2 linked regions of the Homo sapiens genome follow. The protein of the gene in region 1 interacts with the protein of each later gene in a biochemical or structural test. Each region holds a gene or a part of one and is shown in the gene's direction. Other genes may lie near its edges.

Region 1 (7,932 bases):
GTCCAGCCTGAATGTGTCATCTTCCCCCACCTCACTTGCTCAGCATGCCTACCTACCCACATGCTCAGGGTAAAAACTTGAAAGCTTTTAATTTGTCCTTACCTTCACCCTTTCTTTGTATGCAGTCCACCCCCAAGTACTGTCAAGTCAGTGTCTTAAATGCCTATTTAAATCTTATTCTGCCCCGCATCCCTCTAGATTAAAGTACAATCATCTCTCTCCTGAACTATTGATGTAGCTTCCTAATTGTCTTGATTTATATCAGCTCCGCCCCTTCCAGTCTACTCATCACACTATATCTAGAGTGATGGTTTGAATATGCGAAACTGATTGTGTTGCTCCCCTGCTTCAAATTTTCCAATGTCCTCCATTACTCCAAAGTCATAGATCAAAATTCTGCAGTCGGAAATTGTTTGACACCTGCCCATGTCACCAGACTATCTAGCACTATTTACTTCATCTCCCTGTGTTATAGGCACTTCATCTTCTTTCTGTCCTACAAAAGCATCATGCTCTTTCCTGCCCAGTGCCTTCACTCAGGCTGTTCCTTCTGCCCAGAGTCCTCTTTCTTCCCCTTTCCTTACCCCCACCTCACCCCCATTTACCTGATTATAGAATTTCCTTTCTTCCAAGATACTATAGCTTATAAGACACACCTTTTGTTTACAGCTTTCTAGAGAAAAAAATTATTCACTAAATAGGTATATAGCAATTGGAAATCCATATTGATCTTAAAAATCTTTAATTTGATAAGATGTGAATCTTAGAATTAGATAAATATGCTTGTAAATAGTTAAAAGTTAGTTACTTGCACATGGTTTTGTAACTTTCTATTTTACTCTGTTTTTTTCTTATTGTAATTATAATAATACAATTTATTAGAATTTTTTTTTTTTTTTTGAAATGGCGTCTTGCTCTGTTGCCCAGGCTGGAGTCCAGCCATGTGATCTCAGCTCATTGCAACCCCCACCTCCTGGGCTCAAGCAAGTCTCCTGGCTCAGCCTCCAGAGTAGCTGGGACTACAGGCATGTGCCACTACACACAGCTAATTTTTGTATTTTTAGTAGAGACGGGGTTTCACCATGTTGGCTAGGCTGGTCTTGAACTCCTGACCTTAAGTGATCTGCCTGCCTCAGCACCCCAAAGTGCTGGAATTACAGACATGAGACAGTGTGCCCAACCCAGAATTCAAATTTTTAAAAGGTCTCTCTCATCTATTAGAATGTGAGTTCTGGTACCACTAAATCTCTAGTACATGACACAGTGTCTAGCACAAAGTCGGTGTTAAGATTAACCAACATGTTCAAATCAGAATTGCTCCATTTCCCATTAGGTTATGTTCAAGCCAGGCTGTGTACCCACCCTATGCTAGTTTCTATTGCTATTATAACACATGGGCAGAAATGTTGTGGCTTAAAAGAAGGTACATTTATTCTCTCACAGTTCTGGAGATCAGAGATTCAAAATCAGTTTCACTAGAGTAAAGCCAAGATGTCAGAAGAGCTGTTTCCTTCTTGAGGCTTTAGGAGAGAATCCATCTTTTTGCTTAGTTAAGCTTCTAGTGGCTGCAAAGTTCCTTTGGCTGTATAAAGTAACATCCAAGGGCTTGGGAAATGGGATGTGGACATATTTGTGTGTGGGGGGAGGCATTATTCAGCCTACCACCCACCCCTGTGTTGAAAAACAATATGGAAGACTTAGATCCAAATTGGAAAATGGAGCATAGATCAAGAGACATCACTTAAGAGTCAAGACTATGTTTTAGACCGGGTGTGGCTCCTTCCTAGTGGTGAGATTCTTGGTAAATACCTTCATTTCTTCAAGCCTCCTCCGCAAAATGCTGGACCAAAGCAGGTGATTTCTTCCCTTCTATGATCATGGGCTCCCAATGGTTACATGCTAGAGTATGATTTTATGCTGTCCTCATGGCTTCGCATGGCCCACATGGCTTCAGGAACACAAAAGAAGCCCAGAAAAAGGTTTCAAGATCCCATACCCTGCCACTGTGAATGAGAGACAGTTTCTTGATGCTGATTTTCCTCCAGGCCCCCATCACAGCCTGGTTTCAATTTTGGTAAGAAGAGGAACAGAAAAACAGACCACATATGTAACATAACAAGCTCTGCACCCTTCCTCCTTTATGGTTTCTTTAAATACCAACATAGAGTACCCCCTCCCAAAAAACCTAAAACTGGAATATCCCATCAAGGTATAACTATTTATTACCTACCCACCCCTTAAAAAAAAAGGGAAATAATAAAAGAGGTAAAATTATTGTCCACTTATCTGGCATGAATCATTACATTCTAGATAACTTAGTCATGCACAAAACTAAACAAAAAATATAGTTTTAGACACTAGTAGATTGCACACTCATCTAGATTAAGAATTCCAGAGACGCTCAAAATAGAGGACTTATGTCTTTCAGCCTATCTCAGTGCCTGGCAAGAGTAAGTGGCCAATGAATGTGAGATGAATTGAATCAGGCCCCTATAATTTTTTCATAAAGTATGAATATGTACATGTGATTTGGAGCAGACCAAGTAGATATATTCCTGGGTGTGCCTAGAAGCACTGAGAAGCTGTGTATGTGTTAGATGGAGGTCATTGGTGTGAACATACCAAAAATTTAACAGCAGAGAGCTTTCAGGGTATGCCCCAGCTTTTCTTGTGTTTCAACAGCCCCTTGAAATATTAGAAAAGAGAAATAGAGACATAGATGAAGAGAGAGAGAAAATTGATGGAGAAATAACCAGTTAAAAATAAAGTCAAAACTGAGTGTGAAAGTGAGGCTACTAAAACCAGGATAATAGTCATCCATAGAAATAACCTGTGCTTTGGGAGGAATCCTCAGGGCAGGGGTGATCTCCAGGTAAGAACTGATCAAAGGAGATGTTTGTGTTTGGCTAGGTTTTTACTAAAGCCCTTACTCCCTCTAGTGGGAAGACGGAGCTGTGCAGCATCCGTAGCAAGGTGTGTGCTCTTCAGGGCTAAAAGTCCTTTGGAATCAAGATTGTTTCTTGTTTCTTTTTTTTTCTTTTTTCCTTTTTCTCTTTCTTTTCTTTTCTTTCTTTCTTTCTTTCTTTCTTTCTTTCTTTCTTTCTTTCTTTTTCGTTTTTCTCTTTCTTTCTTTTTCTGTTTCTTATCTCCTCAGCTTGAAGGTTGCATCCTCTTTATCTCCTTAAGTAAAGCTGGGAGTTCTGTAGTACTCCAGGAGTGAGGACAATTATGCTTAAGAAACTTTGGTTTCAGTTTAGTCCCAGACCAAGAGGAAAACATTTCAAAATTTTAAAGTAAATCCTAAAAGTGTAATTTACACCAGAGCGATTGACCTGGCATTTATGTAGACTGAAGCTTGAGAAGTAATTCAAGTGGTTTCCACTCATTCCCTTGGAAGAGTCCTTAGAATGTACTTCCATTGGTCTGAAAAACGCCTGAAAAAGAGTCCTGATGCTAACAGTAATGGAAATAGGAGGGCTGGTGGTTCACGATCAGCCCAGTGGTATCCTCTATTCTATTTGCATCTAGGTAAAGAGACTGTGGCCTGTATGTGATCAAACAATTTGTTGAAGCGCTTTGGGCTTAGGGCATTTAATTTCTGTGAAGTAGGACCATCAGTTGTTTGCTCTGTTTTTGTGTCACCTCTCAGAATACATTAAAGTAGGGGCAACCCTTGAGCCCAGACTTCTGCCATGTGAAGACCCTTTGAAAATCCTGACAAACACAGGTACTGCGTAAGTGGTCAGCTAATTAAAGAGGGGAGGTGGAGCTGTCCTTTGTGTATCCAATAAGTACCCATTATCTCATTTGAGCATGAAAAGAGGCCACTGTTATTACTTTCAAGAAGGAAAGTAAGCAGGATAGCTCATATTTTTAGAACAATTCCTCACCAAATGGAATAATTCCGGTGAAAAGTGGGAGTGAGGAAGAAAGAAAAAAAAAACTTCTAATCATAATGTTTGGGAATAAGAAAGGAAGAAGAAACTCACGTCAAAGCCGACTTTCTCCTGCAGCTGTAAAATAAACTCTTAAGACCCTTCCTGCTGAAACTCTGGAGAGGAAAACTGGAGTGGCGGGTGGGCTTTGCCTGCAGCTCAACTCTCCCTCGCGGCGCGGGCGCGGCTGGGTTCAGCACCTCGGAAAGCGCCCCTCGCGGCGCCCCGGGATTACGCATGCTCCTTGGGGCCCGCCGCCTTGGCCGTGCAAGTGCCACCGTAACTGGTGAGAGCCGCTGGCAACCCACCCGGAGTTGACAACCGCGGAGAGACGCAGACACCCACTGACCTCCAGGAAGCTGAGCGTGGTGGATGGAACTCTACGATCTCTTTCTCTCCAAGGACGGAAACCTCATCCAAGCAGTCCCAGAGGAAACGGATAAAGGTATTTGAAAGGGAGCGAGCGGCCCCAAATCGCACAATTGAGCGGCTGGGGGAGTTATGCGCCAGTGCCCCAGTGACCGCGGGACACGGAGAGGGGAAGTCTGCGTTGTACATAAGGACCTAGGGACTCCGAGCTTGGCCTGAGAACCCTTGGACGCCGAGTGCTTGCCTTACGGGCTGCACTCCTCAACTCTGCTCCAAAGCAGCCGCTGAGCTCAACTCCTGCGTCCAGGGCGTTCGCTGCGCGCCAGGACGCGCTTAGTACCCAGTTCCTGGGCTCTCTCTTCAGTAGCTGCTTTGAAAGCTCCCACGCACGTCCCGCAGGCTAGCCTGGCAACAAAACTGGGGTAAACCGTGTTATCTTAGGTCTTGTCCCCCAGAACATGACCTAGAGGTACCTGCGCATGCAGATGGCCGATGCAGCCACGATAGCCACCATGAATAAGGCAGCAGGCGGGGACAAGCTAGCAGAACTCTTCAGTCTGGTCCCGGACCTTCTGGAGGCGGCCAACACGAGTGGTAACGCGTCGCTGCAGCTTCCGGACTTGTGGTGGGAGCTGGGGCTGGAGTTGCCGGACGGCGCGCCGCCAGGACATCCCCCGGGCAGCGGCGGGGCAGAGAGCGCGGACACAGAGGCCCGGGTGCGGATTCTCATCAGCGTGGTGTACTGGGTGGTGTGCGCCCTGGGGTTGGCGGGCAACCTGCTGGTTCTCTACCTGATGAAGAGCATGCAGGGCTGGCGCAAGTCCTCTATCAACCTCTTCGTCACCAACCTGGCGCTGACGGACTTTCAGTTTGTGCTCACCCTGCCCTTCTGGGCGGTGGAGAACGCTCTTGACTTCAAATGGCCCTTCGGCAAGGCCATGTGTAAGATCGTGTCCATGGTGACGTCCATGAACATGTACGCCAGCGTGTTCTTCCTCACTGCCATGAGTGTGACGCGCTACCATTCGGTGGCCTCGGCTCTGAAGAGCCACCGGACCCGAGGACACGGCCGGGGCGACTGCTGCGGCCGGAGCCTGGGGGACAGCTGCTGCTTCTCGGCCAAGGCGCTGTGTGTGTGGATCTGGGCTTTGGCCGCGCTGGCCTCGCTGCCCAGTGCCATTTTCTCCACCACGGTCAAGGTGATGGGCGAGGAGCTGTGCCTGGTGCGTTTCCCGGACAAGTTGCTGGGCCGCGACAGGCAGTTCTGGCTGGGCCTCTACCACTCGCAGAAGGTGCTGCTGGGCTTCGTGCTGCCGCTGGGCATCATTATCTTGTGCTACCTGCTGCTGGTGCGCTTCATCGCCGACCGCCGCGCGGCGGGGACCAAAGGAGGGGCCGCGGTAGCCGGAGGACGCCCGACCGGAGCCAGCGCCCGGAGACTGTCGAAGGTCACCAAATCAGTGACCATCGTTGTCCTGTCCTTCTTCCTGTGTTGGCTGCCCAACCAGGCGCTCACCACCTGGAGCATCCTCATCAAGTTCAACGCGGTGCCCTTCAGCCAGGAGTATTTCCTGTGCCAGGTATACGCGTTCCCTGTGAGCGTGTGCCTAGCGCACTCCAACAGCTGCCTCAACCCCGTCCTCTACTGCCTCGTGCGCCGCGAGTTCCGCAAGGCGCTCAAGAGCCTGCTGTGGCGCATCGCGTCTCCTTCGATCACCAGCATGCGCCCCTTCACCGCCACTACCAAGCCGGAGCACGAGGATCAGGGGCTGCAGGCCCCGGCGCCGCCCCACGCGGCCGCGGAGCCGGACCTGCTCTACTACCCACCTGGCGTCGTGGTCTACAGCGGGGGGCGCTACGACCTGCTGCCCAGCAGCTCTGCCTACTGACGCAGGCCTCAGGCCCAGGGCGCGCCGTCGGGGCAAGGTGGCCTTCCCCGGGCGGTAAAGAGGTGAAAGGATGAAGGAGGGCTGGGGGGGGCCCCATTTAAGAAGTAGGTGGGAGGAGGATGGGCAGAGCATGGAGGAGGAGCCTGTGGATAGGCCGAGGACCTTCTCTGGAGAGGAGATGCTTCGAAATCGGGTGGAGAGAGGAAATTGGCAAAGGGATAGAGACGAGCCCCACGGGCCAGACAGCCAACCTCCGCTCCGCACCCCACAGCCTCTCCTTACTCTTCCCACGCTGAGTAGTGTGGGGGCGCCCAGAAGCGAAGACAAGCAGCAAAAATGTAGAGAAATTGGCACGGGGAGCGGGGCTTAGCCAAATGATGCACAGACAATTGTGCCCGTTTATTCCAGCGACTTCTGCGGAGAGGGCAGCCGTCGGCACAAACACTCCTTTGCGTCTTGGCAAACGAGACTGCAGCAGCGCCAAGGTCCTACTTGCTGCGGGGCTGCCCCAGGAATCTAGAGCTGGTAGGCAAGAAACGCTTTTGGAGTTAAGAAAAAGAACTGACCATCCTGGTCCGCCCACAGGAGAAACGGCAAAGGAAAGCCACCTCCAATGGAGTCATTATGACAATTATCATTCCGGACTGGGCCAGCGGGAACACCCTGAGCCCGACCTAGCTGCACAGCCCCGGAGCTCAGACGTTAGCAGGGGGATAACACCTGTCACCAGCTTGGGAGAGCCATTCTCTGGGGAGTGTCGTCGCTGCGGGAGGGAGGAGACACAGTGTGATTAGAAGGGCTGGACAGGGAAATTTCTTCAGGCTGCTGCCCCAAAAGGTAAAAGGGGGCTCATATGCTCACTTGGTAGCAGAGTTGGAAGTGGAGCGCTGGCGCGTTGCGCGCAGGAAGCTCGGGCGCTCCAGTTCCTCTGAGAGCAGTCTGCGTGCTGCCGGTGAGCTGGGCCCGGAGGCATCTTGAATAGCTCTACTGGGAGGAGTGGGGGCACTTCTTCAGTTCCTCCCTTCCCACGCTTTGGGAATCAAGCTGTTCCTTTGATTGAGGCCCTGGACCAGCGAGTAGAGGGATGGTTCAGTATTTATTTTATTATTAATTTTTTTCTGGTAGGCTTAGATAGAAGAGGAAGAAATACCGCAGAAATGTGCAAGGGGAATTGGGGCGGGGGGCGGGGGGAAGTGGAATCTTGGAAACCAAATTCCTAGAAGCTGGGTCGGATCTCTCAAACAGAGGTGTGGGGTAGGAAAGAAAATAGAAGGTTCAGGTACCATGTTCTAAAGCGAGCAGAGTACTGGGGAAACTGTTCTGAGGGTATCATCAGAATTTCAGTTGTGGGCTTTTTTATTGCTTATATTATTGACAAGAGAAGGTAGGAAATAGTAATTCCCATCGGACATTACCATCACCAATTTCCATTTATTCTAAAGAGTGCTTTACATATTAAGCATGCATGACAAATTCTTTCCCAGCCTCCAGACAGTTTATGGAGCTGTCTCTGAAGACCGCCTCACATTTCTCATGTTGACTCTGTTTTGATCACAGGAGCTTAAGATGTTAAACCCTCACAAAGTCCTTTCTTGAGGCTCTTCTAAGAACTGGGATCAAACATCAGTCTACCTACCCCTCTGCTGGCTTTCATAGAGGTACTGCTACTCTCTTCGGCAACCTGGTTTGGGGCCAAAAAACCAATGATGCAGGCACCCACCAGGGTGGTTGGTTTAATA
Region 2 (7,983 bases), on another chromosome or scaffold:
TCACAATGAACTCAGAGAGGTATAGGGTCTTGCCCAAGGATACACAGGAACAGAGATTTGAACCTAGCTATGTTGGGCCCAAAACTCTGATTCTATGTGAGACACAAAAGACGCTTCTGGGCTGGGTGCAGTGACTCACGCCAGCACTTTGGGAGGCTGAGGTGGGCAGATCACTTGAGATCAAGAGTTTGAGGCTAGCCTGGCCAACATGGCAAAACCCCGTCTCTACTAAAAATACAAAAATTAACCAGACATGGTGGCGCACACCTGCAGTCCTAGCTACTTGGGAGGCTGAGGCACATGAATAGCTTGAACCCTGGAGACAGAGGCTGCGATGAGCCGAGATCACTCCATTGCACTCCAGTCTGAGCGACAGAGTGAGACCCTGTGTCAAAAAAAAAAAAAAAAGAAAAGAAAAAGAAAAAAGAGGCTTCTGGTTTGAGGCCCATCAGTTAAGTCAGGCAGGCAGGCAGCAGATATTTCCTGAATGCTTGTTCTTCCCCAGGCCAGGCACTGGGGGCGCAGGAGAAAAGGGCAGGAGGGTACCTCCCTACAGGAAGTTCCTGGAGAAGAGGCCGAGGGGAAGAGAGTATTATTCACCAGCCCTTTAGAAACAGAGCAATCAGAGGTGACCTCTGCCTCCGGAAGGTTGCCCTTGGCCTGTGACATCCACAGCAGGCAACTGGGGCCAGGAGTTTGTGACAGAGAAAAGGACAAAGAGATGAAGTTCTAATCCAAAGGGAACGTGTCCAGTAGAAATAACATTTAAACAGCACTTACTTCATGCAGGAGATTGTTGTAAAAATTTGACTCACTCATTAAATCTTTCCCATTTTGCAAGTGAGGAAACCAAGGCACAGAGAGTTTAAGTGACTTGGCCAAGGTCACACAGCAGGAAAGAGGCAGAGGTGGAATTTGAAGCCAAGCTTGCCCCCCTTACCAGAGCCCTTGTTTTTGCTGTGTTTTAAAGTCGAGGTGAAATTGACATTAACATAGCTGTGCCTGGTGGCTCATGCCTGTAGTCCTAGCACTTTGGGAGGCCAAAGGGGGAGGATCACTTGAGCTCAGGAGTTCCAGATCAGCCTGGGCAACATAGTTAGGCCTCATCTCTTTAAAAAAGAAAGACTGGCCGCAGTGGTTTACATTTGTAAACCACCTGTTTCCCACCTGGCTAATTTTTGTATTTTTGTTAGAGACTGGGTTTTACACTACGGTGGACAGGCTGGTCTCAAACTCCTGAACTCAAGTGATCTGCCCGCCTTGGCCTCCCAAAGTGCTGGGATTACAGACGTGAGCCACCGTACCTGGCCTGGTTAGTTTTATTTTATATGGATGTTATCTCTCTCTTTTTTTTTTTTTTTTTGAGACAGAGTTTCGCTCTTGTTGCCCAGGCTGGAGTGCAATGGCGTGATCTCCGCTCACTGCATCCTCCGACTCCCAGGTTCAAGAGATTCTCCTGCCTCAGCCTCCTGAGTAGCTGGGATTACAGGCATCTGCCACCATGCCCAGCAAATTTTTGTATTTTTAGTAGAGACGGGTTTCACCGTGTTGGCCAGGCTGGTCTCAAACTCTTGACCTCAAGTGATCCGTCCTCCTCAGCCTCCCAAAGTGCTGGGATTACAGGCATGAGCCACCATGCCCGGCCTCAATTTTTTTTTTTTTTAGACAAGGTTTGGCTCCGTTGTACAGGCTGGAGTGCAGTGATGCAATCTCAGCTCATGGCAGCCTTGAACGCTTAGGCAAAAGTGATCTTCCCACCTCAGCCTCCTGAGTAGCTGGGATCACAGATGTGTGCCACCACACCTGGCTAATTTTTACATTATTTGTAGAGGTGGGGTTTCACCTGTTGCCCAGGCTGGTCTGGAACTCTTGGGTTCAAGCAATCCTCCTGCCTTGGCTGCCCAAAGTTCCGGAATTACAGGCGTGAGCCATCATTCCCAGCCTCTCAATATATATATTTTTATTTTATTATGATGATGATGATTATTTTTTGTGACAAAGTCTCACTCTGTCGCCCACGCTGATGCACAGTGGCTCAATCTCGGCTCACTGCAGACTCTGCCTCCTGGGTTCAAGTGAGTCTCCTGCCTCAGACTCCTGAGTAACTGGGATTACAGGCATGTGCCACCATGCCCAGCTAATTTTTGTACTATTAGTAGAGATGGGGTTTGACCATGTCGGCCAGGCTGGTCTCGAACTCCTGACCTCAAGTGACTCGCCCGCCTCAGCTGCCCAAAGTTCTAGGATTACAGGCATGAGCCACTGTGCCTGGCCACTGCCACTAATTTTACATTATGGTGAGTTGTATGATTATTTCAATATACAACTACAGTATAATAATAATAGAAATAAAGTGCACAATAAATGTGATGCGCTTGGCCAGGCGCGGTGGCTCATGCCTGTAGTCCCAGCACTTTGGGAGGCCGAGGTGGACGGATCATGAGGTCAAGAGATCGGGACCAACCTGGACAACATGGTGAAACCTCGTCTCTACTAAAAATACAAAAATTAGCTGGGCGTGGTGGCATATGCCTGTAGTCCCAGCTACTCGGAAGCTGAGGCAGGAGAATCGCTTGAACCTGGGAGGCAGAAGTTGCAGTGAGCCAAGATTGCGCCATTGCACTCCAGCCTGGTGACACAGCAAGACTCCATCTCAAAAAAAAAAAAAAAAAAAAAAAAAGTGATACGCTTGAATCATCCCGAAACCATCCACTTGACACTCCATCCATGGAAAAATTGTCTTCCACGAAACCGGTTTCTGGCGTCAAAAACGTTAGGATCTGCTGCCTCAGGACACCCTTCTGTGTCTCCGTTTCCTCATTTGTAATATGAGAATTATCTTAGTCCTGAATTCATAACCCCATGCTCTTAAAAGTGTGGTTTCCGCCGGGCGCAGTGTCTCACGCCTGTAATCCCAGCACTTTGGGAGGTCGAGGCGGGCGGATCACGAGGTCAGGAGATCGAGACCATCCTGGCTAACACAGTGAAACCCCGTCTCTACTAAAAATACAAAAAATTAGCCGGGCGTGGTGGCGGGCGCCTGTAGTCCCAGCTACTCGGGAGGCTGAGGCAGGAGAATGGCGTGAACCTGGGAAGTGGGGAGCTTGCAGTGAGCCGAGATCATGCCACTGCACTCCAGCCTGGGCGACAGTGCGAGACTCCATCTCAAAAAAAAAAAAAAAAGAAAGAAAGAAACTGTGGTTTCTGGGCTGGGCGTGGTGCTCCAGGCTGGAGTGCAATGACACAATCTTGGCTCACTGCAACCTCTGCCTCCTGGGTTCAAGCGATTCTCCTGCCTCAGCCTTCTCAGTAGCTGGGATTACAGGCACCCGCCACCATGCCCGGCTAATTTTTATATTTTTAATAGAGACAGGGTTTCATCATGTTGGCCAGGCTGGTCTCAAACTCCTGACCTCAGGTGATCCACCCGCCTCGACCTCCCAAAGTGCTGGGATTACAGGTGTGAACCACTGTGTCCAGCCAATCCCAGCACTTCGAGAGTCTGACGCATTTGGGTCCCTTGAGTCCAAGAGTTTGAGACCAGCCCGGGCAACATTGTGAGGTCTCATCTCTACAAAAAATACAAAAATTAGCTGAGCATGGTGGTACACACCTGTAGTCCCAGCTACTTAGGAGGCTGAGGTGGGAGGATCATTTGAACCCGGGAATTCAAGGCTGCAGTGAGCTATGTTGCCACCACTACAATCCAGCCTGGGCAACATAGCCAGACCCTGTCTCTGAAAAAAAGAAAAAAAAAAAAGTCTGGTTTCTGAACCAGCAGGATCAATGTCACCTGGGAACTGGTTGGAAATGCAGATTCTTAGATATGTTCCATACCTGTTGAGTCAGGAGCTCTGCAGGTAGGACACAAAGATATGTGTTTTGTTTGTTTGTTTTTGAGACAGAGTCTCACTCTGTTGCCCAGGCTGAAGTGCAGTGGCGCCATCTCAGCTCACTGCAACCTCCACCTCCCAGGTTCAAGCAATTCTCCTGCCTCAGCCTCCCAAGGAGCTGGGGCTACAGACATGAGCCACCACACCCGGCTAATTTTTTGTATTTTTAGTAGAGGCGGGGTTTCACCATGTTGGCCAGGCTGGTCTCGAACTCCGGACCTCAGGTAATCCTCCTGCCATGGCCTCCCAAAGTGCTGGGATTACAGGCGTGAGCCACCGCGCCTGGCCTGATTTCTGTTTTAACAAGCCTACCCAAAGATTCTGAAGCTCACTCACATTTGAGAACCATTACCCTGGGTTGTTGGGAGAATCAAATACATTACAGAGATATAAAATGCTTTGAGCAGCTGAGGGCTGTGGCTCATATCTGTAATCCCAGCACTTTGGGAGGCTGAGACAGGCGGATCACCTGAGGCCAGGAGTTCGAGACCAGCCTGGCCAACGTGGTAAAACCCCGTCTCTACTGAAAATACAAAAATTAGCCAGGTGTGGTGGTGGGCGCCTGTAATCCCAACTACTTGGGAGGCTGAGGCGGGAGAATTTCTTGAATCTGGGAGGCGGAGGTTGCAGTGAGCCAAGATTGTGCCATTGGGACTGTACCTCTAGCCTGGGTGACAGAGCGAGACTCCATCTAAACAAACAAACAAACAAATAAACAATAAAATGCTTACAGTAGTGTGCCTGGCCTCGTAGCACATACTGCACTGGGCGTTCACTGCTATTATGATCTTCGAAGAGGTCCAGGACCCTAACGTTGTGGGGATCTGGTTGTGTCACCTTACCCCGCCTTTTGGGATTATGCGTTTCTGGTCTCTGCAGGTTGGAGACCTTCTCGCCTCTCTGTCAATGATGTTGACAATAAGCTGGGCCACATCACCCTGTCCCTAGCGAAAGGTTATCACTTCGCTGGGGACATGAGAAAGGTCGGGTTGGGGGGGCCGTGCCTGTCTCCCCTCTGCTGGAGAAGATAAGGGAGGCACTCAGCTTTCTTCAGGCAGAGTGTGGGGGAGCCACGATGTATAAATGGGGGGCCAAGAGGCAGCAGAGACACTGGCCCACTCTCACGTTCAAAGCATCTCCGTCCAGCATGGCCAGGTACATGCTGCTGCTGCTCCTGGCGGTATGGGTGCTGACCGGGGAGCTGTGGCCGGGAGCTGAGGCCCGGGCAGCGCCTTACGGGGTCAGGCTTTGCGGCCGAGAATTCATCCGAGCAGTCATCTTCACCTGCGGGGGCTCCCGGTGGAGACGATCAGACATCCTGGCCCACGAGGCTATGGGTGAGGCTGGGGAGAGAGTGGATGTAGAAGGGGAACAGGTGGCTGGATGGGTCCCAGGAGCTAAGGACAGAGATAAGAGGAGGTTGCTGGAGGAGGAGGGTCCCTGTCCTGCCACATTCAGCCAGGGACACCTGCCCAGCCTTGAAACAAGGGCTCAGGAGTTAGCAGAGCTGCAGAGCTGGGATGGGGTGTTGCAAGCCATCCATGGGGGCTGGAAGTCTGAGGACAGGTGGGGGCGGGGAGCGTGCCATTTGCAAAGACAACACCGAAGTGTTTTCCAACCCTTTCCAGCAGGTAATGTGAAGGGTGTGGTATACACATAGCTGGGTTTGTCACCTAATGCATGACCTCTCCCCAGCAAGTTGGTTTTTCTTCCGTCTCTGAGTGTCTTTTTTTTGGAGATGTGGTCTCACTCCATTGCCCAGGCTTGAATGCAGTGGCCCAATCACTGCTCATTGCAGCCTCGACCTCCCAGGCTCAAGTGATTCTCCTGCCTCCGCCTCCAGAGTAGTTGAGACCACAGGCACCTGACACCATGCCTGGCTAGTTTTAAATTTTTTTTTTGTAGAAACAGGGGTCTCACTATGTTGCCTAGGCTGGTCTCGAACTCCTGGGCTCAAGTGATCCTCCCACCTCGGCCTCCCTAAGTGCTGAGATTAGAGTCTCTGAGTGTCTTTATCTTCAAATGGGAGACACAGTTCCTGAATCTTGCAGGATTAAGTGGTATGATTAAATCAAAACAGATTAGGGCAGAGTCTCAGCAGGGCAGCGGCACAATCTGGGATCCATCAGGAGAGTCAGAGGGAACAGAAGACCTAGCTTCATGAGGGGCAGGGACCTGGCAAATAGATATTCATGATGGTGAGAAGGAGGATAGGTATGAGCGTGGACATAGAAGACACACCACTTGGATTCAGATAGTAGCTCTACAATGTAATAGTTGTGTGTTCATGTGCTACTATTTTTTTTTTTTTTGAGACAGAATCTCATTCTGTTGCCCAGGCTGGAGTGCAGTGGTGCAATCTTGGCTCACTGTAACCTCCATCACCTGGGTTCAAGCGATTCTCGTGCCTCCAGCCTCCCAAGTAGCTGGGATTACAGATGTGTGCCACCATACCTCGCTAATCTTTTTATTTTTAGTAGAGACAGTTTCACCATGTTGGCCAGGCTGGTCTCCAACTCCTGACCTCAGGTGATCCTCCCACCTCAGCCTCCCAAAGTGCTGGGATTACAGGCATGAGCCACCGCGCCCAGCCATGCAAATTCTTTACTGAGTCCTGCCTCAGTGGTCTCCTCTGGAAAATACGGGTGATAACTGCACCCACCTCAACTGGTTATCACTGAGAAGAATAAAGAAGTTAACCTGCTAAAGCACTTAAAACGTTGTTTGACACAAAGTAAGTGATCAATAAATTATTATTATTATTATTATTATTATTATTATTATTTTTGAGACAGGGTCTTGCTCTGTTGCCCAGACTGGAGTGCAGTGGTGTGATCACAGCTCACTGCAGCTTCAACCTCTTGGGCTCAAGCAATTCTCCTGCCTCAGCCTCCTGAGTAGCTGGGACTACAGGCTTGTGCCAACATGTCTAACTTTTTATTATTTGTAGAGACAGGGTAGTGCTGTGTTGTCCAGGCTGTTCTTGAACTCCTGGTTCTGGTGATCCTCCAGCATGTGCCCCTGGAAGTGCTGGGATTACAGGTGTGAGACACCGTGCCCGGACTCAATAGTCATTTTTGAGTGCTCATCATGTTCCAGACATTGTTCTAAGTTTTTTTTTTTAATGAATATTAACTCCTTATAAAACTTGAGAAGGTTGGAGTAATTATTTTTTTCCACTTTGCAGAAAAGAACATTGAGGCTCCAAGAAGTAAATTTACTTGCTCACGATTAGAGAAGCTGGATTCATGCTCAGTCAGCCCAGCTCCCAAATGTACCAGGTCCTCAATTAATAAAGAGTAAGGAGAAATAAATGACAGGGCTGGGTGCGGTGGCTCACGCCTGTAATCCCAGCACTTTGGGTGGCTGAGGTGGGCACATCACTTGAGGTCAGGAGTTTGCGACCAGCCTGAACAACATGGTGAACCCCATCTCTATAACAATACAAAAATCAGCCAGGCCTGCTGGCAGACACCTGTAATCCCACCTACTCTGGCAGAGCCAGAATTTGAACCCAGGACTGGGTGGAATAAAAACTCTGAACTATGTCTATGACTGTTGTCACAAGATCAGAGCTAGACTGGCCAGGAGCCATGACTGTGGGTGCAGCAGCAGCTGAGCCCTGATCACTAACTCTGTTCATCTTTTGCAGGAGATACCTTCCCGGATGCAGATGCTGATGAAGACAGTCTGGCAGGCGAGCTGGATGAGGCCATGGGGTCCAGCGAGTGGCTGGCCCTGACCAAGTCACCCCAGGCCTTTTACAGGGGGCGACCCAGCTGGCAAGGAACCCCTGGGGTTCTTCGGGGCAGCCGAGATGTCCTGGCTGGCCTTTCCAGCAGCTGCTGCAAGTGGGGGTGTAGCAAAAGTGAAATCAGTAGCCTTTGCTAGTTTGAGGGCTGGGCAGCCGTGGGCACCAGGACCAATGCCCCAGTCCTGCCATCCACTCAACTAGTGTCTGGCTGGGCACCTGTCTTTCGAGCCTCACACATTCATTCATTCATCTACAAGTCACAGAGGCACTGTGGGCTCAGGCACAGTCTCCCGACACCACCTATCCAACCCTGCCCTTTGACCAGCCTATCATGAC

The links. Proteins that work in one complex are often made in the same cells at the same time.
Region 2: the proteins of RXFP3 (region 1) and RLN3 form a complex in vitro, tested with the Homo sapiens proteins (2 studies listed by BioGRID, with this or other methods).

The regions. Positions count from the first base shown.
Region 1 is NC_000005.10:33,931,958-33,939,889, forward strand, and holds RXFP3 (relaxin-3 receptor 1), read left to right. Parts: upstream 1-4,428; 5' UTR 4,429-4,783; coding exon 4,784-6,193; 3' UTR 6,194-6,961; downstream 6,962-7,932. UniProt on the Homo sapiens protein: Receptor for RNL3/relaxin-3. Binding of the ligand inhibit cAMP accumulation.
Region 2 is NC_000019.10:14,023,165-14,031,147, forward strand, and holds the start of RLN3 (relaxin-3 preproprotein), read left to right. Parts: upstream 1-4,983; 5' UTR 4,984-5,040; coding exon 5,041-5,230; intron 5,231-7,080; coding exon of another isoform or gene 7,081-7,192; intron 7,193-7,545; coding exon 7,546-7,784; 3' UTR 7,785-7,983. UniProt on the Homo sapiens protein: May play a role in neuropeptide signaling processes. Ligand for LGR7, RXFP3 and RXFP4.